Regions from separate parts of the Homo sapiens genome. Here region 2 is linked to region 1. The links come from fine-mapping of genetic effects on gene expression. A gene starts in region 1. The other region holds a variant in brackets. All regions are shown on one strand. Distances are from middle to middle. Region 1 holds the start of UGT3A2 (UDP glycosyltransferase family 3 member A2). Region 2 holds the start of UGT3A1 (UDP glycosyltransferase family 3 member A1).

Evidence for each region. PIP is the estimated chance that this variant, and not a neighbour inherited with it, causes the effect.
Region 2: its variant is the best candidate, but not a certain one, in a credible set for the expression of UGT3A2 in sun-exposed skin (GTEx, PIP 0.62).

What each region holds. Positions count from the first base shown.
Region 1 is chr5:36,059,729-36,071,133 of GRCh38, forward strand. UGT3A2 (UDP glycosyltransferase family 3 member A2) reads right to left here and starts at 7,154. Exons shown (of 7, transcript NM_174914.4): 1 at 6,968-7,154; 2 at 4,521-4,622. The coding sequence starts at 7,061. RefSeq lists an enhancer at 217-717.
Region 2 is chr5:35,987,635-35,999,039 of GRCh38, forward strand. It overlaps UGT3A1 (UDP glycosyltransferase family 3 member A1), which reads right to left and starts at 3,756. Exons shown (of 7, transcript NM_152404.4): 1 at 3,513-3,756; 2 at 816-917. The coding sequence starts at 3,606. The variant T/G (reference allele first, on the strand shown) is at 5,768.

The sequences.
Region 1 (11,405 bases):
CCAAAAGAGGCAGAAGCTGAATTGTAGCTTGTGGAGCAGATGCTTCAGCAACAGCATGCCTCCTGGCTACAGCTACAAAAACCTTTGCTTTTGTTTTGGTAGATTTACTAAGGTGGGGACCAGGGTATGTTTGTGTTTTCACAGAAAATGAACAAACCGTGTGGGTGCTCTCAAGGTGTGTGCGACCATGGAACAGGAGACTGGAGGGACTCATGGATTCCAATCACAGGCCTGGTTCCCCCAGTACAAGCCATGAGCCAGTTGAATCTGAATGTGAAGATGGAATGAGGACCAACTGGAGTCACACTCACATCAACCCCCATGACATGCAGACAGATCAAGAAAACCACACAGGAAGCTGAGAAACTGTTAGAGCATCAGGGTCAGGCAAAGACCCCTGACTCCATGTTTGTGGCCATGCTGGCCATGGTTTCCTGTGCATCTGTAAGATAAGCTGGACCACCAACCAGCAATTGAGGGCTGCACAGCCAGTAATTGCCTTTCTCAAATTAATTCAAAAACAAAAAGGGAGAAATGTTGGAGGCCAAAAGAGTGAGGGTTGTGATCAACTCAGTATACCACTGGAGGCTATATGAGTAAACAGCAGACTGTTTCTCATAAAATGCAGAATGTTGGCAAACTGACAAACTGCGTCTGCCACCCAGAAGGAATGCTGAGGGCAGTCACGCCCCAAGTGCAATATTTCTTACGATTAGGCAAATCTGAAGCCTGTTAGTAATAATATGAACCTGTGATCAATCAAGCAGCTGACCAATCGTTACCTCCTCCTCCCTGCTCATTCTACCCAATAAAAAGGGTTGTGGAAGCTCAGCGGCTGCCTTTGCTCACTAGAAGCGGGGAGCTCTTTTCTTCTTCCCCTGGCCCCTTTACAACCGTTTCTTTTAAGTTTTCATTTTTACGTTCGTCATCCTTCGTTCAGTCTCGTAATGATGGTCTCAAGTAGTAACAGTAATAACTGTCCTAGTGATGGTTTCAAGAAGTAATAGTGGCTGTCAGCCACAGGGAGTCACTGTTTAATAAGTAGAGTTCCACTTCACGATGATGAAAAACTTCTGAAAATTTCAGAGATGGTCCTACAACAATGTGAATGTCCTTAAAGCCTCTAAACGGTACATTGGAAATGGGGCCAGGTGCGGTGGCTCACACCTGTAATCCCAGCACTTTGGAAGGCCAAGGCAGGCAGATCACCTGAGATTAGGAGTTCAAGACCGGCCTGGCGAACATGGCAAAACCCTGTCTCTACTAAAAATACAAAAAAATTAGCCAGGCGTGGTGCCCCACGCCTAATAGCACGCACCTGTAGTCCCAGTTATTTGGTAGGCTAAGGTACCAGAATCGCTTGAACCTAGGTAACGGAGGTTGCAGTGAGCCAAGATCACACCACTGCACTCCAACCTGGGAGACAGAGGAAGACTCTGACTCAATTAAAAAACATGGCTAAAATGGTAGATTATGTTATATATATTTTACCACAATGAAATTTTAAATTTTATTATTATTATTATTATACTTTAAGTTTTAGGGTACATGTGCACATTGTGCAGGTTAGTTACATACGTACACATGTGCCATGCTGGTGCACTGCACCCAGTAACTCGTCATCTAGCATTAGGTATATCTCCCAATGCTATCCCTCCCCCCTCCCCCCACCCCACAACAGTCCCCAGAGTGTGATGTTCCCCTTCCTGTGTCCATGTGATCTCATTGTTCAATTCCCACCTATAAGTGAGAATATGCGGTGTTTGGTTTTTTGTTCTTGTGATAGTTTACTGAGGATGATGATTTCCAATTTCATCCATGTCCCTACAAAGGACATGAACTCATCATTTTTTATGGCTGCATAGTATTCCATGGTGTATATGTGCCACATTTTCTTAATCCAGTCTATCATTGTTGGACATTTGGGTTGGTTCCAAGTCTTTGCTATTGTGAATAATGCTGCAATAAACATACATGTGCATGTGTCTTTATAGCAGCATGATTTATAGTCCTTTGGGTATACACCCAGTAATGGGATGGCTGGGTCAAATGGTATTTCTAGTTCTAGATCCCTGATGAATCGCCACACTGACTTCCACAGTGGTTGAACTAGTTTACAGTCCCACCAACAGTGTAAAAGTGTTCCTATTTCTCCACATCCTCTCCAGCACCTGTTGTTTCCTGACTTTTTAATGATTGCCATTCTAACTGGTGTGAGATTGGTATCTCATTGTGGTTTTGATTTGCATTTCTCTGATGGCCAGTGACGATGAGCATTTTTTCATGTGTTTTTTGGCTGCATAAATGTCTTCTTTTGAGAAGTGTCTGTTCATGTCCTTCACCCACTTTTTGATGGGGTTGTTTGTTTTTTTCTTGTAAATTTGTTTGAGTTCACTGTAGATTCTGGATATTAGCCCTTTGTCAGATGAGTAGGTTGCGAAAATTTTCTCCCATTTTGTAGGTTGCCTGTTCACTCTGATGGTAGTTTCTTTTGCTGTGCAGAAGCTCTTTAGTTTAATTAGATCCCATTTGTCAATTTTGGCTTTTGTTGCCATTGCTTTTGGTGTTTTAGACATGAAGTCCTTGCCCATGCCTATGTCCTGAATGGTAATGCCTAGGTTTTCTTCTAGGGTTTTAATGGTTTTAAGTCTAACGTTTAAGTCTTTAATCCATCTTGAATTGATTTTTGTATAAGGTGTAAGGAAGGGATCCAGTTTCAGCTTTCTACGTATGGCTAGCCAGTTTTCCCAGCACCATTTATTAAATAGGGAATCCTTTCCCCATTGCTTGTTTTTCTCAGGTTTGTCAAAGATCAGATAGTTGTAGATATGCGGCGTTATTTCTGAGGGCTCTGTTCTGTTCCATTGATCTATATCTCTGTTTTGGTACCAGTACCATGCTGTTTTGTTTACTGTAGTCTTGTAGTATAGTTTGAAGTCAGGTAGTGTGATGCCTCCAGCTTTGTTCTTTTGGCTTAGGATTGACTTGGCAAAATTTAAATGAGAAAATGTAGATTAAAAAATGGTTTTGGCTGGATGCAGTGGTTCACACCTGTAATCCCAGCACTTTGGGAGGCCAAGGCAGGAGGATTACCTGAGGTCAGGAGTTCGAGACTAGCCTGGCCAACATGGTGAAACCCCATCTCTACTAAAAATACAAAAAATTAGCCGAGCATGGTGGTACACACCTGTAATGTCAGCTACTCAGGAGGCTGAGGCAGGAGAATTGCTTGAGCCCAGGAGATGGAAGTTGCAGTGAGCCAAGATCATGCCACTGTACTCCAGCCTGGCCAACAGAGCGAGACTCTGTCTCAAAAAAAAAAAAATGGTTTTAGAAATCTGAACAATGACAAGGCCTGATATTATCTTCAAAGGTTGAAAATATCTCAGAATTTTCTCCCTCCAAGATGCTTGCTTTTGGATTTTTTTTCTTTTTTAAAATTATAGCTTCAGGGGGTGCATGTCCAGGTGTATTGCATGATGATGGAGTTTGGGCTTTTCCCTGAGCAACACTTTCATATTGAGCAATTTGGAGCATAAAGTCCTAAATCCACCCAACTCTGTTATCAAGCAAATCTGTTAAGTTCTCAGGGTTTCTGTTTCCTTGTGGATCAACAGAAGTGTTGATAAGATTTATGAGCTTCATTTTGGCTAAAATTCTTTGGACTCAATGACTCCATTAAGAACATCTGAAATCACTATGCACAAACTCGTGGGCAGCCACTTATTTTTCAAGAATGCAAGACCATCTCAGCCATAGACTCCTAACTTAGCTGCATAAATAAGGGTCTCCCTGCAAAAGCTTACTTAAATTCCGATATCATAAAAAGAGGAAAAGTAATCTATAAAAAGAACAGTGATTCTTACATGTAAGAAGTGTTAAATAAGGCTGAATATTTCTGTTCTATCTATATACAGAGAGTCTTTGAGGTGGAGTCTCACTCTGTTGCCCAGGCTCTAGTGCAGTGGTGCATTCCCAGCTCACTGCAACTTCTGCCTCCTGGCTCAAGCGATCCTCCACCCTCAGCCTCCCAAGTAGCTGAAACTACAAGTGGGTGCCACCATGTCAAGCTAATTTTTGTATTTTTTGTAGAGACAGAGTGTCCCTATGTTGCTCAGGCTGGTCTCAAACTCCTGGGTTCAAGTGATCCACCTGTCTCAGCCTCCTAAAGTGCTGGGATTACAGGTGTGAGCCACCTTGCCCCACCATGTTTAATATATTTTTTAAGCCATCTTATAAAGTAGTATTTGTTAAAATAATCCATAATAATGAGTGGATGGTTGCTTGGGATGGAGTAGAAGTCAAGTAAGGGGAAAAAAAAATATGGGAGTATGGAACGTCAGGTCCCGGTAATTAGAGACTAAGAAGTTTTTTGGCACTTTACATACACACACACACAAGCTTTTCATCCTTCCAATTGAATTAGATTTTTAAAAAACATTTTGCTAAGCCTTTCTATGCAAACAGCATTTTGCTCTTTGCTTGGAGTAGGAGAAATCAAGAAAAGTGAGAAAAGATACCTGGCATAAAAGGACCTCTTTTGTGGTTAAGCATGGTGACATTATGACCGTGATCTTGAAGAATCTGAGAAACCCGGTCCATCAGTAGATAATGGCTTCCACCTAGGAACAATGCACAACTTCAGTTCTGGAATGATGAGAATACAGTGTCTGAAGTCAGTAGTGATCAATCCAGGAGAGGAAAGGTAAGGAAACAGAAGTGGATAGTGATTGGAGGAAGATGAGTTTTGCCAGTCTCCTCATGTCCCTCTGGGTAAAACCCAGCCCACTCACCCAGAGCATGGCCGCCCAAATTTTTACCTGTGGCTCTGGTCCGTGAGAGATTGCCTCTTGTGAATCACGGTATCCATGTCAGTGTAATGAGCTACTATGTGCTTAGCCATGGGAGTTCCTCATCCTGAGGTACATGTATATTTTAACTAAGGCCTTATGGAGACACAGAGTCCAAAAGAAATCACGGCACTGGTGGAAATACAGGTATGGTGTTGTACATATGAGTGTGAATAGTTCCTAAAAAACAATGAGAGCTGTTTCTGGGATCCTGCTCTTTGGACATTTCTGCTGCTGTAGGAGATAGAAACCTTAAGAGATTGGTCCAAGAAATCATCACTGGAACAGAAGGAATGAGGGGCCACTACTTAGAATCCAAATCCTTAAGATTCCAATGTATTTTGAAAGGATGTACTTAATTTAGGCCACACAATGATCAAGTTCTAATTAAGACATTTGAGGACAACTGTGGGGCGCTTGGGGTGGGCCTGCTGGATCCTGGTTGCACGAGAGACTAGGGAATCATTGATTCCAGAAACATCCATCCTAAGGAAAGAGAAGCTTGATCCTCAAAAGAGGTACAAGTTCCACGAAATCAATGTCTTCTCAGTACATGTTCTAATACACAGCCTTTGCTTGAATCTAAGGTTCTCAGCAGCAGAGAAAGGAAGATCAGAAGAGAAGGTAATGTAATAGTAAATACCAAAAGCCTGCGGGGTGGGGGTGGAAGGGAGTAGAGAAGTAGTGTTCAGCTCTCTGAATGACTCAGTTTACTTATACCCAGGCTTGAATAGTCTGGAGCAACAAGGGACGTATAAAGTACAAATCTGCAACAGGTCTTGCTCACATTTTAATCCACGTAAGAACAGGGAGCTGGGAAGAAGGGGTCCCCACAGAAACAGCTGTTAGCGGTGGATCTTGGGGAGTCAGGTGGCTTTCTGGGGCAAAAATCAGCATTCTAGCACCTCAGAAATGACATCAACTCCTTCTTGGAGCCTGAGGAAGGAGGGCTGTGTACTTTCAAGAAGTTAAGAAGCTCTGTTGCTTCACTGCTACTAACACTCAGAAAGAGGGGGAAAAAGTCTTCAAATGGACTTGCACTGTTTCTTAAACAGTGATTTTTGAAAATCCCCAGTGAAAAGGGCTTCAGAGTGGAAGTTGTGGTGAGCATGGTCTTGCAGTAAGAAAACCCTGAGTTAATTCCTCATGGGACATCAGGGAGGCCACAAGTGCTCTTAAGGAAGGCATCTCACTCCCCATCCTTCAATTGCCCTCTCAGGAAATGAAAATGGGCACTAAATTAGATGATCTGTGGTTCTTCCCAGCCCTACGAGCCCTAATTCTCCATGATCTAAAAGGAATCCATTAGAACCCACTATGGGTTGAAATAAAGTCTTGGGGAAGCTCGATCCTGAGATGATCCCTTTATGTTCATATATGTTTCTCTTTTATCTTCTATTCCCTTTGGGGTAAAAGTAAAAGAAGTAAAACTGAGACCCAAAATGCAGAATTAACAGTCCCATGAATCCCTCAAATAACGGTCAGCGGCACAGGTAAAAGGAAAGATACTCCAAAAGATGCGAATGACCTGGATCTTCTCCTCAGCCCTCGGCAGTTCTCCAGGTTTCCCCTGGTGGAAAACACTCCACTGGCATTGCAGCCATGAAATACCTGCCTGCGCCACCCTGGCTCCGGATGCAGCTTCACAACATTTGCAGTGCTGCCCTCAGGAGGGCCTTTCCCTGGTCTCCAAGAGCCTGAAAACGCTCACCACTGTTTCTACTGGAAGCTACTGTGCACCCACACACACGCACCCTCCGGAGCTTAAGGTGAGCCTCTGAAAGTCCCACTGCGCCCTGGAGAAGGCAGCCCAGGAACTCAAGCTCTGGGATGAGTCTCAAATTTCTGGCCCCAGCCCTGCGGGATGGGGGCGCGTCCTGAACAGGAAGAAGACAGTAAAGGAGAATCTCTTTTCTCCAAAACTTTCTTCCCCACCTCAGCAATAGAGGCCCCTCTCTGCCCCACAGCTGAATGGGCTTCTCCCTCCTCCAGCCGGGTCCGCAAGCCCAGCCTGGAAAATCACGTGGATGACTCTGATCAAGCGCTGTTCTCTGGAGCCCTGGCAGTGCGAGTATCCGGGACGCGCCTGTCTGGGAATTCTCCGGCCAAGCACTCACCTACTGTAGATATTGTCAGGATTTTGGCAGCCTCTGAGAGCAGGACCCCAGGGAGAAGGAAGCCCACTAGAAGAAGCACTCGCTGCCCAGCCATGCTCACTTCTACGGAAGCCGCGGATCTCAGCCTGGGCTGCGCGCCCTGCGCCCGGCTAAGGGACCCTGTGCACCTCAGTGCGCCAAAGGCACTGGCTGTGGGTAGAGGTAGGAGTAAGGATCCTGCCAGTCTTCTCTTCTGTCCATCCCCTCTTGCCCTCTGCCCCTCCTCCCTCGTGCTCCATTGGATAATCTATCCTCGCTCTACCAAACTACCAGCAGTCAGTAGGAGGGGTCGGTGAGCCCATACTTAACCCTGCTCTGCCCTTGTGATCACAGCCCTCCTGCCTGGAAAATCCTTACTGTGAGTGAGGAATGGCAGGGACCTCAGTAAATCGAGCTGATGAAAGCTCTATCTCCATGGGACCCACCTCTCTTTTGCAAAGGCTGTGTGAATTTACCTACTCTAGTTCCCTTCTAACTGCCTCTATTACCTCATACTGCCAGCCCCGCGATCTATTTCCTGAGAGACTTGCTTAAAATCTTGAGCTGATGTTCCAAGCCCAAGACCTCCCTGGAAGGGAATCCCCAAGGGAAATCAATCTACCATCCCTGGAATCTATCTCTTAGTGTCTCTTTAGAAGGTAACATTCCTGAAAAGAGGCTAGAGTCCTACCTCTGGAAGTCCAGGTCTGTCCCTGGAGGACTGAAATTCAAAAGCTGAGACTATCATTCTGAATGAGTATCCTGAAATAGGACTGGTGAATCTTTCCATAATTTCCAAGAGCACATGCTGATGACAGCTTGTAATTCTGCCTCCGTGCAATGTCAGCCCCAGTGAGGTCAGGGATCACCAGGTCCGGTAGTCCCCTTTACTCTCTATCCTCAAACTAAGACTTCCTTTAGGAAAGGCTTTCAGTGCAACTCTAAATAAGCAGAGAAATCCTTGGTTGCAGTGGGTCCTTGAATTCTGCGTGTTCTATTCCTGCCTTCTTCAGTCTACAGGGGTTATTTTTTCTCATTGGAATTTAAAGCATTACATTCTTATGCATTTGTGCATCCCTCACCTAGCCATGCCTATTGTGGAGAAAGAGGAGAGAGAGAGAGAGAGAGAGAGAGAGAGAGAGAGAGAGAGAGAGAGAAAAGTGTGGGAAGGGCGAGGTTTACCAGACATCACAAGGCTCCAGTTCGTCTTATTCTTGTACTTTTCATAATGCATTAGCAAAATAAAGGATTTGTTATCAAACTCCAAGATTTTTATTTATTCAACAATTATATTGATAGATTTTTTTTTTTTTTGAGACAGAGTCTCGCTCTGTCACCCAGGCTAGAGTGCAGTGGTGCACTCTCAGCTTACTGCAACCTCTGCCTCCCAAGTTTAAGCAATTCTTCTGTCTCAGCCTCCCGAGTAGCTGGGATTACAGGTGCCTGCCACCACACCCGGCTGATTTTTGTATTTTTTAGTAGAGACTGGGTTTCACCATGTTGGCCAGGCTGGTCTTGAACTCCTGACCTCACATGATCCACCCGCCTTGGCCTCCCAAAATGCTGTGATTACAGGCATGAGCCACCACGCCTGGCTGATAGCTATTTATTATGCCAGGCATTGTTCTGCCAGGCAAACTGATACTAAACACACTAAGAAATAAAATATATAGTACATTAATGGCAAATGTTACTAAGAAAAATCAAATGGAAAGAGATATGAAGAGTCAGGTATCAGATTCGTTAACGTTTTACATAGCATGATTCCAATGGACTCTAAAATATTATAGGAGTATCAGAGATATATGAACCCAAATTTTGAAAATATTAACTAGTTATTGTTGCTTTGGAGAAGAGTTCTATGTAATTGTGGTTATAAACATCTTATAAAGAAATTCTGGCTGGGTGCAGTGGTTCATGCTATAACCCCAGCACTTTGGTAGGTGAGGTGGGGGGAACACGAAGTCAGGAGTTCAAGGCCATCCTGGCCAATATAGTGAAGCCCCGTCTCTACTAAAAATGCAAAAATTAGCCAGGCATGGTGGCATGTGCCTGTGGTCCCAGCTACCCGGGAGGCCGAGGTGGGAGAATCGCTTGAACCCAGGAAATGGAGGTTGCAGTGAGCCGAGATCGCAGCACTGCACTCCAGCTTAGGAAACATAGTGAGACTTTGTCAAAAAAGAAGGGAGGAAGGAAGGGAGGAAGGGAGGGAGGGAGGGAGGGAGGGAAGGAAGGAAGGAAGGAAGGAAGGAAGGAAGGAAGGAAGGAAATTGGCTCTTAAGGTACATTCTGAAACATTTACAGATTCTGTCTTATGATTTCTCAGATTTGCTTCAAAATAATAGGTTGTGGGGGTAAACAAGGTTAAATGTGGGTGGCAGGATAAGAAAAGAGAATTGCCAGGAGTTAGTAATCACTGGAGCTAAATCCTGAGCATAAAGAAGTTCTACTTTTGTGAATGTTTGAAATTTTTCATTAAGATGTTTTTATAGCTCTTCCACTATAATTCTATTTTTCCTTGGTGTTATAGCAATTTTTCCTGTATACACATAAGGCTACTCATTAAATGCATATATATGAACAATTATAGTTTCAGGTATTATACCTTCCAGGGAAACAGTTAGTCCTCGTTTTATAATGAGGACCTATTTTGTCTCTGGTAACACTTTTCACCCAAAGTCTATTTTGTTTGCCATTACTACTAACCATTCAGATTTTATCTTCCATTGTGGAAAAAGATCTATCTTTTCCTATCCTTTCATGTTCAACCCTCCTGTATCCTCATATTTTAGGTGTGTCTCTTGAAACAGCAATCAGCTTGAAATTTTTATTCAAGTCTGTCAATCTTGTATTTCAGTCCGAATGCATGTGTTTAAATCTACCAGGTTGCTATTTCTCCCACTTATTCTGTTACATTTCCTCTACTTTTTGGCTTTCTTTGAAGACTTTAGTATTTTAGACCACTAATTCCCTTCATATAACTTGGAGCGGGGGTGGTGCTCCATCTCACTGGAGTCAGACAAACTGATAACCCATTCACAGTGAACCTGCTTCCTATGTACAATATTTCCAGACTCATTAGGTCTCCATAAAGGCTTGCAGCAGGAGTTGAGGAGATAGCTTTGCTACAATCTGGTGTCTTCTTTTCTACTTATGGGAAGCTATGGGTTCTGTGGGTGTTATGTGATCTTCTTGTTTATGTTTATATTACATGCAGCATTTAATTACATGCAGATTGTGGAGGCCCCAGAAGGGGAAACTCCCTATGATGTACTCTCTTTACTCTATCCCGATACCAACCTATGCATTTTCTAAACCTTAATGCCAGTCAAAAGCAAAGAGTGTCATAGGCGTCACAAAGGAACAGTACACATGAATACCCAGATTAATTCTAGCACCTATTAGTAAAGCCTAAAGTCTCCATTCTCCTGTACATGTGGAGACATTTTGATGTGGATACATACCTCCTACTCATTAGTACAAAATCCTTTGCACAGAGAACTTCAGAAACATACAGACTGAAAAAAGAGTCCATTTGCAAATTTTCTACAGAACCCAAATAAAGTGGGTTTCATCCTCCTTATACGACTTAAGGTTTAGTGCCAACTGGTTTGTAGCAATGGTCCCTCAAGGGATAACACACAGTCCTGTCTGTGCTGTCCTTGGAACCACAGCTACAATTGCATTCCACCTTCTCATCTACATGGATCTGGGGCTCCATGATTGAAATCATCTGCTCTGGCTGCCTACCTTGTGGTCCCCATCACACTTAGAAAGTCACTGAAGGCTGGGTGCAGTGGCTCACACCTGTAATCCCAACACTTTGGGAGGCCTAGGTGGGCAGATCACCTGAGTTCAGGAGTTCAAGACCAGCGTGGCCAACATGATGAAACCCCATCTCTACTAAAAATACAAAAAAATTAGCCAGGTGTGGTGGTAGATGCCTGTAATCCCAGCTACTCAGGAGGCTGAGGCAGGAGAATCACTTGAACCTGGGAGGGGGAGGTTACAGTGAGCTGAGATCGTGCCACTTTCACTCTAGCCTGGGCAACAGAGCGAGACTCCATCTCAATTAAAAAAAAAAAAAAAAAAGGAAAGTCATTAAAGCAAACTCAGTGCTTCCTCAGGTCCAGCCAGAGACTGTAACCAGGAAACAGAAGTGTTTCTTTATCAGCATGCCCATGATAGCTTGCTGCTTAAGTGCATGAATATAGGTCAAGGCTAAATAGCAAAATATTCTGGTTCAGCAGGTCAAGCATTCTGGAGGATTTTTGGCCACTTTTCTCTTTCTTCAGACCCCACAGGTTAGCTAACCCTCCACCCACTTCCCGCTGCCTTCACCCTGGCCAGGTGCCAGTGCAGACTTACCCCATTCCCCGATAGCCTTGAGTAGCCAGATGACAGAATTCTGGGCAATTAG
Region 2 (11,405 bases), 72 kb before region 1:
CTAAACATTAACAAGGCCTGAAGTTTACCTTCAGAATTTTATAATGACTCAGACTTTTTCTCCCAAGATGGTTAATTTTTGATGTTGTTCAAAGCTTCAGAAACCCTCAGATTGAGAAACCCAGAGCCTGAAGACCCAGATTCGCCCAACTCTGTTATTAATTTTTCATTTGACATTAAACAAATTTTTTCAGTTCCCTGGACCTCCGTCTCCTTGTCTGTCAACAGGAATTTATGAGTTTCATTTTAGTTACAATTCTTTGGAGGAAATGAATCAATTAAAAACTTCTGACATCATTATGTACAACTTATGCATAGCTACAAATTTTTCAAGCATATGAGGTCGTGTTAATCATATATTCTCATCTTAGTTAATAATTAAGAGGCTCCCTGGGAAATCTTTCATAAATTTCAAGTCTCTCAAGAATAGAAAGTAACCTGTGGGATAAGAAGAACTTCTATACTTACATAATAAAAGCCTGAAATATGGCTAAACATTTCTGTTCAAAAAAACTTTAAGCCATACCATTGTGTAGTATTCCTCAAAATAATTAATAATAATGTGTGGAGAGTTGTCTAGAATAGAATGACACCCAGGTAAGTGGTAAAATACAGAAGTATGTTATGTGAAGTCTTAGTCTACAGACCCAATAAGAATTCCAATACTTAACATGAACACACATCCACACACACATTTATTCATCCCGAAATAAGACTAGATTCAAAGAAGTTTTTACTATGCAGCTGTATAAAAAATATATTATCACTTTTTGCTTAGAGTAAAAGAATATAAAAATTAGTTTTTAAAAAAGATACCTGGGATCAAAAACTTTCCACTCTGATGAAGCATAGTCACATTATGACCATGCTCTTGAAGAATCTGAGACACCCGGTCCAACAGTAGGTAATGGCTTCCACCTAGAAACAATGCACAATGTCTTTTGTAAAGATGAAAATAGAGTTTCTGATGACAATATGGGAGTAGGCAGGAGGGAATGGAAATTCAGCAGAAAAAGCATAGGGAAGAGGAAATGTGAACAGTGAGAAGATGGAGATAAGCGCTTCCTGTTCCTCAATCTCACTTTGGGTAATGCCCAGTACATGCACCCAAAGCCTTCCTGTCCTATGTTCGGGACCTGTGGCAATCCTCCATCAAAGATTTCCGCTTGTGGCTCAAAGACTCCATGTCAGTGTAATGAGCTTCTCTGTGATTACGCCTGTAAAAGTTGCTCATCTTAAGGTATGTGCTGCATGTTACTTGGGGCCTTAGAGAGATATTGTCTCCAAAATATAACTGCAATGATAGAAAATACAGCACAGTAGTGTGTACATTAGTATGAAGGGTTCCTAATGGGCAATCAGTCAGAGCTATCTTTCATCCTATTTTGGAAAAGTATGCTACTGTAGGAGACAGAAATACAGAAGTTACAAGGTGAGTCTAAGAAACTGCCATTGGACAGAAGCTACTACTTAGAGCCCAAATCTTTGTGATTAAAATGTATTTGGCAGGAAATTACTCAATTTGGGCCAATGTACAACTTATAATTAAGATATTTGAGGACAACTGTGGAGCCCTTGGGGTGGGCCTATAGATCCTGGTTGCACCAGAAACTAAAGAATCACTGATTCTAGGAAAATCCTACCATGCTAAGGAAAGAGAAGCTTGGTTCTCAAAAGAGGTAAAAGTTTTATCACGTTAATATCTTCTCTTAGTGCATGTTCCAACACAGACCCTTCACTGGAAGCTAAGGTTCTCAGCAGCAGAAAAAGAAAGATCAGAAGAGAAATTAATGGAAAAATGCCGAGAGTTTGAGGATGGAGGTGGAAGGGGAGTAGAGAAATAGTGCGCAGCTGTCTGAATGACTCACTCTACTTATACTCAGACTTGAATAGTCTAAAGCAACAAGGGATGTATAAAGTACAAATCTGCAACGGTCTTGCTCACATTTTAATCCATGTAAGAACAGGGACTCAGGAAGAAGGGGTCCTCACAGAAACAGCCACTCATAGTGGGTCTTAAGGACTCAAATGGCTTTCTGGGGCAAAGACCTGGATTCCAGCATCTGGATTCAGAAACGACACCAGCTCCCTCTTGAAGTCTGAGGAAGGAGGGCTGTGTACTTCCAAGAAGTTAAGAAGCTCTGTTGCTTCACTGCTACTAACACTCAGAAAGCGGGGAAAAGACTTCAAATGAACTAACACAGTTTCTTAGTGATTGAGGCGGGCGGATCACGAGGTCAGGAGATGGAGACCATCCTGGCTAACACGGTTAAACCCCGTCTCTACTAAAAGAATACAAAAGAATTAGCTGGGCGTGGTGGCGGGCGCCTGTAGTCCCAGCCCAGCTACTCGGGAGGCTGAGGCAGGAGAATGGCGTGAACCCGGGAGGCGGAGCTTGCAGTGAGTTGAGATGGCGCCACTGCACTTCAGCCTGGGCGACAGAGCAAGACTCCGTCTCAAAAAAAAAAAAAAAAAGAAAGAAAATCCTTAGTGAAAACGGCATCAGAGCGGAAGTTGTGGTGAGCGTGGTCTTGGGGTAAGAAACCCTAAACAATTCTTCATGGGACATTAAGGAGGCCACATGTGCTCTTAAGAAAGGCATCTCACTTCCCTGTCCCTCAGTTGCCCTCTCAGAATATCAAAATGGGCACTAAATTAGATGATCCGTGGTTCCTTCCAGCTCTAAGAGCCCTGATTCTCCGTGATCTAAAAGGAATCCTTTAGCGCCCACTACGGATTAAAATAAAGTCTTGGGGAAGATCGATCCTGGGATCGAGCTCATATATAATTCTCTTTCATCTTCTACTTCCTTTGAAATAAAAATAAAATAAAACTGAGGCCCAAAATGCAGAATTAACAGTCCCATGAATCCCTTAAAAACGGTCAGCGGCACAGGTAAAAGGAAGGAGGCTCCAAAAGATCCGAATGACCTGGGTTCTCTCCTCAGACCTGGGCAGTTCTCCAGGTTTCCCCTGGAGAAAAACACTCCGCTGGCATTGCAGTCATGAAATACCTGCCTGCGCCACCCTGGCTCCATATGCAGCTTCACAACATTTGCAGTGCTGCCCTCAGGAGTGCCTTTCCCTGGTCTCCAAGAGGCTGGAAACGGTCACCACCGTTTCTGCTGGAAGCTACTGTGCACCTCCCGGCCCCATGGAGCTTAGGGTGAGCCTCTGAAAGTCCCACTGCGCTCTAGAGAAGGCAGCCCAGGAACTCAAGCTCTGGTCCTGGTCTCAAATTTCTGGCCCCAGTCCTGCGGGACGGGGAGCGCGTCCTGAACAAGAAGAGAGAAGAAAGGAGAGTGTCTTTTCTCAAAAACTGTCTTCCTCACCTCAGCAATAGAGGCCCCTCTCTGCCCCACGGCTAGATGGGCTTCTCCCTCCTCCAGCCAGGTCCGCAAGCCCAGCCTGGAAAATCGCCTGGATAACTCTGATCAATCGCCGTTCGCTGGAGCCCTGGCAGTGCGGGGATCCGGGACGCGCCTGTCTGGGAATTCTCCGGCCAAGCACTCACCCAGTGTAGATATTGTCAGGATTTTGGCAGCCTCTGAGAGCAGGACCCCAGAAAGAAGGAAGGCCACTAGAAGCAGCACCCGCTGCCCAACCATGCTCACTTCCACAGAAGCAGCGGATCTCAGCCTGGGCTGCGCGCCCTGCGCCGGGCTAAGGACTCTGTGCGCGCCTCAGTACTCCAAAGGCACTGGCTGTGGGCCTAGGAAGAGGTAGGAGACGGATCCTGCCAATTCTCTCGCCCTTCTGTTCGTTCTCTTTCCCGCTGCCCCTCCTCCCTGGGTGCATGCTCCATGGGATAATCTGCCCTCACCCTATCAAACTACCTGAAGTCAGTAGGAGGGGGTTGGTAACCTGATCTGTAACCTTTCTCTGCCTGCGTAATCACAGCTGTCCTATCTGGAAAATCCTTACTAAGAGCCAGGAATGACAGGGGCCTCAGTAAATCACGTTAATGAAGGCTCCATCCCCAAGGAAACCACCTGTCTTTCGTGGAGCTGTCTGAACTTATGTTACTCTGCTTCCCTTCCAGCTGCCTCTATTACCTCATAGTGCCATCTCCATGCCCCCATTTTCCCCAGAAACCTGCTGAAAATCTCTAGCTGGTGTCCCAAGCTCAAGATGTCCCTGAGAGGGAATCCCTAAGGGAAACTGATCTACCCTCTCTGAGGGCCTCTTTAGAAGATAACATTCATGAAGAGGAGCTAGTAGTGTTCTAATTCTGAAAGTCACTCCGGGTCTGTACCTGGAGACTGAAATTCGAACACAGAGACTATGATTCTGAATGTGTATCATAAAATAGAACTAGGGATATTTTGATAATCTCCCCAAAGCACAAACTGAGAATAGCTTGTAATTCTGCCCCCTTGAAGGGTCAACCCTGGGAAAGACAGGGATCACTACACCAGGTATGGTCACCTTTGTACTCTCTATCCTCAAACCAAGACTTTCGGAAAGGCTTTCAGTGCAATTCTAGACAGACAGAGAAATCCTTCAATGGATTATATCTACCGGCTGTAATAGGCCCTTGAATTCTGCTTGTACTATTCTTGCCTTCAGTCTACAGGTATTACATTTTTAATCTGAATTTAAAGCATTACATTTTATTTAAAGCATTACATTTGTGCATCCTTCACCTAGACATGTTCATTGTGGAGAGGGAGGAAATGAGAAAGAGAGAGAGCCAGACAGACAGATGCACAAACATACACACACATACACTCACACACACACACACTGGGTTGGGGGAGCGAAAGGGAGAAGGGGAAAGAGAAGTGTGGAGGGGGGAAGGTTTACCAGGCTTCACAAGACTCCAGTCCATCTATTCTTATACCTTTTATAATGCATTAGCAAAATAAAGGACTTGCTATCAAGCTTCAAGCTCTTCATTTATTCAACAATTATTCTGACAGCTAATTATTACACCAGATATGTTTGCTGGACAGACAGAGGCTAAACACAATAAGAAATGAAATACATAATATATTCATGAGAAATGCTGCCAAGAGAAAACAAACAAGGAAAGAGATATGAAAGGTCAGGTATTAGAAGTGTTAACATATTAAATAGTATGATTTAAACCAATTCTAAAAAATTATAGGAGTATGAGAGAAAAATGAGCACAAAACTTGATGATATTAAGTAGTTACTGTTGCTTTGGAGAATTTTATGTTATTATGAAAGGAAATTAAATTTGGGGACACAAAACTCATTTGACCAAAGGGAAAAGTCAAGCTTGGAACTGGGTCACACAAACCTGCGTCTCCCTTTTGGTTCCTAAATAAGATGGCTACAAGATGGAAAGCTACACACCTCCCCCATATGTTGCCCACAAGGAAATTCCTAGTGAGCTCTTAAAATTTCACCGTGGCAATGCAAATTGATAGCTTATTTTTACAGGTGCAGTCACCCCCAGCCCACCAGACATAAATGCATATCTGCCCAATTTTGTCTATGTTATCTTATGTAAAAATGCAGATTCCCTGCATTTTTTTTCTCTGCTCCATTTGTTTTATATCATCTTATATAAAAAATGCAAGGTGGCCAGGCACGGTGGCTCACGCCTGTAATCCCAGCACTTTTGGAGGCCAAGGCGGGTGGATCACAAGGTCAGGAGATTAAGACCATCCTGGCCAACATGGTGAAATCCCGTCTCTCCTAAAAATACAAAAATTAGCTGGGCGTGGTAGCACGTGCCTGTAATCCCAGCTACTCGAGAGGCTGAGGCAGGAGAATCGCTGGAACCCAGGAGGCGGAGGT[T/G]GCAGTGAGCCAAGATCGCGCCACTGCACTCAAGCCTGGTGACAGAGCGAGACTCCGTCTCAAAAAAAAAAAAATGCAGATTCACTGAGCCAGACAAAGGCATGAATGACTATTTTTCCCTACCCACCCCTTACATGAAAATTGTGTACTTCTCAATATCCCACCCTCTCCCCTTTAAATTTAGAACCCTCAAAGTCATCTTTGGAGAAAGGCATAGACCTATCTCCTGGTGCGCGTCCTTAACTTTGGCAAATAAATCTCCTAAAATGATTGAGGCTTGTCTCATCATTTTTCTCTATTGACGTCTAGTAACCATGGAGGGATCCTGAGTGAAAGTGACCCAGCCTGCAGCCTCTCATCTCTCGTGTTTGGTTCCGGCTTGGGCACCTTATAGCCCAAACCAATAGGACAATTTTCTGAAGTCCAGGATCTCTTTCCTCCAGGGATCCCTGATCTTCCAAAGTTTTTCAGGGATCTAGGAGTCTGAGGTTTATATGCTGTTATTAAACAAACAAACAAACAAACAAACAAAAAGCTCCTTTTTTATGGGAGTTTCCACTTGTTTCCTTCAAGGAGGGCGAGCCTATCTGCTTCTGTATCAGGGATCTTGCGGTCTGAGGTTTATTTGCTGTTTAAAAAAAAACTCCTTTTTTGTGGGAGTTTCCACTCATTTCCATCAAGGAAGGTGAGCCTGTCTGCTTTTGTATCAGCAGAAAGCAGACTTCAGCTTGGACCTCCATCACTAGGTAAAGAACAGGTTTGGGATTCTGTCTTACAAATTCTTTTAAATGACTAAAATTAGCATCAACAACCAGCTGGTGTTAATTTCCCACTTACACTTAGAGCACTCAGAAATCATATAATTTGTGTCATTATTGTTAGTTTTGCTTAACGGTTTTGTTGTTTCTAGTTTTGTTTTGTTTTGTTTTGTTTGTGTGTGTGTGTGTGTGTGTGTGTGTGTGTGTGTGTGTGTTTCGGTTCTTTCCCCTATCAGGTTTGACCAACTCCAAACCCTCTAGCTCATGAGGGTGGAATTCTCCACTCTGAAAAACAAATAGGAGCACCTTGCTCCTCTCAGCCTTTTGTGGCATTCTCAGGTGACTGAGAATCACATGAGGGTGATGGAGAGAAGCACTCCCTAAGATGTTCAGTGCCTCTGAATAGGTTTCCCCCTCAGGAGAACATACTTAGGGTCTAATCTCAGCTGACAGGTGCATATAAGGAGCTGACCCCTCCCACACCTTCAGCCCCTGACACATATGCCAGGTAGCCGCAACATGTGTGGACTGAACCAGTTTAGGTTGTGATGGCCCTGAAAAGCTAGGTCTGCAAGCAGCACATTTGGGGTCCAACACACATCCCAACTTGGTGAAATCCAAAAAGGAACTCTAAGTTATGGGGAATAAGGTCTCTAAGACCCCGGAGGAACATAAAGTTCCCCCTTCAGAAACTCCGGATGGGTATTGTGGCAAATAGTCATGCAAATATTTAACCAAGTGGACCACTATAACTAAAGCAGATTCTAAGTTACAATGGCCTAAATGGGGATCTTTTGATATGCCCAAATTAGTGTAACTGTGAACCAGGATGGAAAACGCAGGCACAAAAACTAAACAGCCAGAATGGAGGAGCTACTTTCAATGGTATCTGGAGAGTAGCAAAAGGGAGGAAGACTGAAGGCCAACAAACAACTTAGAAATGCTCATCAAGAACTCTGTAATCTTTTATCTCTCTTAAAGAGCTATTGGCATCTCCCCTACCTCCACCTCCACCCTCACTCTACCCTGACCTCTCTGAACTTCCCAGGTCAGATCTGTTCCCCCCTTCTCCTCCATGTCTACCACTCAACAGTAGTCTGACTTCAAAGACTCCACTCCCTGATGATTCCCTGACAGCCCCAATGGCAGCATCTCATCTGGAAGATGTGAAAATGAGGGACCCTACAGGGACATCTCTCATGATCGCCCCATTTCAGGAACAACCGGTAACAGGTAAGGGATCCCTGCCAATTGTCTACCAACCCTGGTCAAAGGCTGAATTACGAGGCATAGTTAAAGAATTTCCTGACCTCCATAAAGATCCAATTGGTTTTGCCCAAAAATATGAGCTCATTATCAGAACCTATCACCCAGGTCATTCAGACCTTTATCAGCTAGTCTACATGTTGGTCTCAGAAGCTAAAGCTAAGGAATGGCTGGAAAAAGCACAGTGGTCAGACCCTATAGCAGATTTAACCCCTGAAGGCCCAATAGAGCCAACAACCAGCCCCCGAAATCCAGAAGACAGGCATAAAGAGTCACGGGAATGAGTGACTGCTCTGTTAAATATTATTCCTTCAGTGCTCCAAAGGGTTGTGAATTGGAATAAAATCCAACAATGCTGCCAGAACCCAAATGAATCAGTTTTAAATTATTTAACATATTTTGATAAAACTTTAAGTATTGCAGGATGTCAGTTGATTGCTTTGAAAACAATAAAAAATAATACATTATAAAATGCAAATTTCTTAAACAGACTAGATGATGATTTAGCCACCCTTGTAAAATGGCACATGACAAATTGGGCCATGACTAGACTAATGAACTAGTTAACTTAGCTGATCAAATATCCTGCGCTATGACAAAAAAAAAAAAAAAAGGAGAAATAGAAGATTGCCCAGGTTATGCATTTACAGCTAAAGCAATTAACTTCTCAAACCTCTCAGCCCCAGAAAGACTTTAAGCTCTCTCCATCTGAAGACTCTTGCCTCCCAGTCTGTTACTACTGTAAAAGACGAGGATACCTTAAGCGAGGCTGCCTTAGGCTGAAACAAAAGAAAAGGCAGGAGAATGCAACTCAGGAAGACTAGGGATGCTCCGAGAAAGTGCAGGGGTTTCGCTTCTCCAAATATTCTATCCTGACAAACAAATTGGGAGAGATTCATATAATAATAAACCATGAGCTTACAACTACCTTAATTGACACAGGCATGACTATATCTCTGATAAACCCCACCTTATTTAGAAACCTCATTCTTCAGAGTAATAAAATAATTAACATGTTGGGTGTGTCTAATAAAACAATCTCATGTTTTAGGTCAAAACTTGTACCTTATCATTTCAATGGAATCACCCCCTTGACCCAGGCTCTAAGTGTGACACGTTAAGTAGGTCCCATATATTTCTAATATGCCCTGGGGCCCCTGTCAATCTTTTGGTCTGTGATCTCCTCAACATCCATAATGCCCATATCTCTTTTTCATCAAAAGGTGAACTTTTTTAAGAATTGGAGTCAGGGGACCAAAAATACCAAATTAAAAACTGTCCTGACAATGTACCACAATTTAGCACCAATAATGTTAAAACATCATCTTGTGACAAGGAAAGTGAAGTGGAGCAGAGAAGGAAATATTAGGGGAGAAGAAAGAACATTGGAATAAAGAGAAGAAAGCAGTAAAACTCCTTTTAGCTTCCCCAATCTTCCTGTTAACAACAGAAGCAGAGCACTTGCTAAAGGATGTCCCATCCCACTTATGGTCTCAGTCAAATACAGATATAGGGAATATATTCTCAGCCATTCCAATAAAGGTAGAGAAAAACCCAAAGAAACCCCTACTCAATCTTAATATCCTCTATGACAGGGAGCCATAGATGAAACTGTCCCTACCACACAAGATTATCTGAAAAAGGGGCTCATTATTTCCTGCACAAGCCTCTGCAATAGCCCTATATTCCCTGTCAAGAAACCAAGCAGGAGAAGATGGAGTCTTGTGCAGGATGCTAGGGCAATAAACAATGTCATAATACCCAGACACCCAGCAGTCCCCAACCCACACACCCTTCTATCAACTGTACTCACACAGCCAGTATTTCTCAGTTGTGGGTCTCTGCAGTGCCTTCTTTAGTATTCCTGTAGGTCCAGACAGCCAATATTTGGATATTTGCCTTTACTTGGAAAGAACAACAATACACATGGACAGTAATGCCCCAAGAGTATACAGAAAGTCTCACTTACTTTTCCCAAATATTAAAAGCTGATTTAGAGGATTTAATTTTTTTTTTTTTTGAGACGGAATCTCACTCTGTCACCCAAGCTGGAGTGCAATGGTGGATCTCGCCTCACTGCAACCTCCGCCTCCCAGGTTCAAGTGATTCTCCTACTTCAGCCTCCAGAGTAGCTGGGATTACAGGCGCCTGCCATTATGCCTGGCTAACTTTTGTATTTTTAGTAGAGGCAAGGTTTCACCATGTTGGCCAGGCAGGTCTCAAACTCCTGACCTCGTGATCCACCCACCTCGGCCTCCCAAAGTGCTGGGATTACAGGCATGAGCCACAGCACCCAGCCAGAGGATTTAATTTTTACCCAGGGCTCAACACTCATCCAGTATGTGCATGATCTTCTCCTTTGTTCAGACACACTGTCTTCCTCTCAAGAAGATAGTCTATATTTACTCAAACAGTTAGCCATCAAGGGACACAAAGTGTCCAAAGACAAACTTCAGCTATATTTACTGAGACTTAAGTATTAGGGGCATATTATCTCTGTCAAAGGACTGAGTATTAACCCTGACAGTGTAAGAGGAATTTCAGCTTTCCCCATGCCTGTCACTAAGAAACAACTTAGAGGATTTTGGGGCCTGGCAGGCTATTACAGAAACTGGATACCAACTTTCTCCCTTATGGCTCAACCTCTGTATGCCTACCTAAAAAAATGAACAACCTGATCCCATCATGTGGACTCCAGAGGGACAATCAGCTGTACAACAAATAAAGGAAATTCTAACTGATGCCTCAGCTTTAGAAAACCCAAACTACAAATTTCCTTTCTCCCTTTTTGCACACGAAATTGTGGGTACTGCATTTGGAGTACTGACCCAGAAACATGGTGATTATCAGAGACCTATTGGCAATTGTAGCCAACAGCTGGACGCTGTGGCTCAAGGGCTGCCTCCTTGTATGACAGCAATCACAGCAATTGCCCTTCTGTACAAGTCTGTTGAAGAAATTATTATGGGTTACCCCCTTACCATTTTTGTGCTGCATTCTCTGGATACCCTTCTAAACTGTCATCATACTCAAGATCTGTCAGCTGGTCAGCCTCTTATAAATTTTGGCTTTTATTATCTCCCAATATAACTATTTCCCACTACAGTGATCTTAATCCAGCCACTCTCTTGCTGGGACTTTTCGACAAAATCCCTCATGACTATGTTGTAATGATTGACTGACTTGTTACCCCCAGGGCAGACCTACAATAGATGCCACTGGATAAAGCCAAAATAGAATGGTATACAGGTGGATCTTATTTAAGAGGAGAGGATGGAAATTTTAGAGCAGGATATGCTGTGGTTTCCTTATGGAGGTAATTGAAGCCGGTCCTCTTCCCTAAGCCAGATCAGCTCAAGTGGAGTTGCCAAATTGATTGCCCTAACTGACTTGAGCTTGTCAACTGGCAAAAGAGAAGGCTTCAAACATTTACATTGACAGATTTTGGGGTTGCTCATGACTTTGGGATGCTATGGAAAGAGAGAGAATATTTAACCTCCTCAAAGCAACCCATAAAAAATGTACAATAGGCCGAGCGCGGTGGCTCACGCCTGTAATCCCAGCACTTTCGGAGGCCAAGGTAGGCAGATCAGGAGGTCAGGAGATTGAGACCA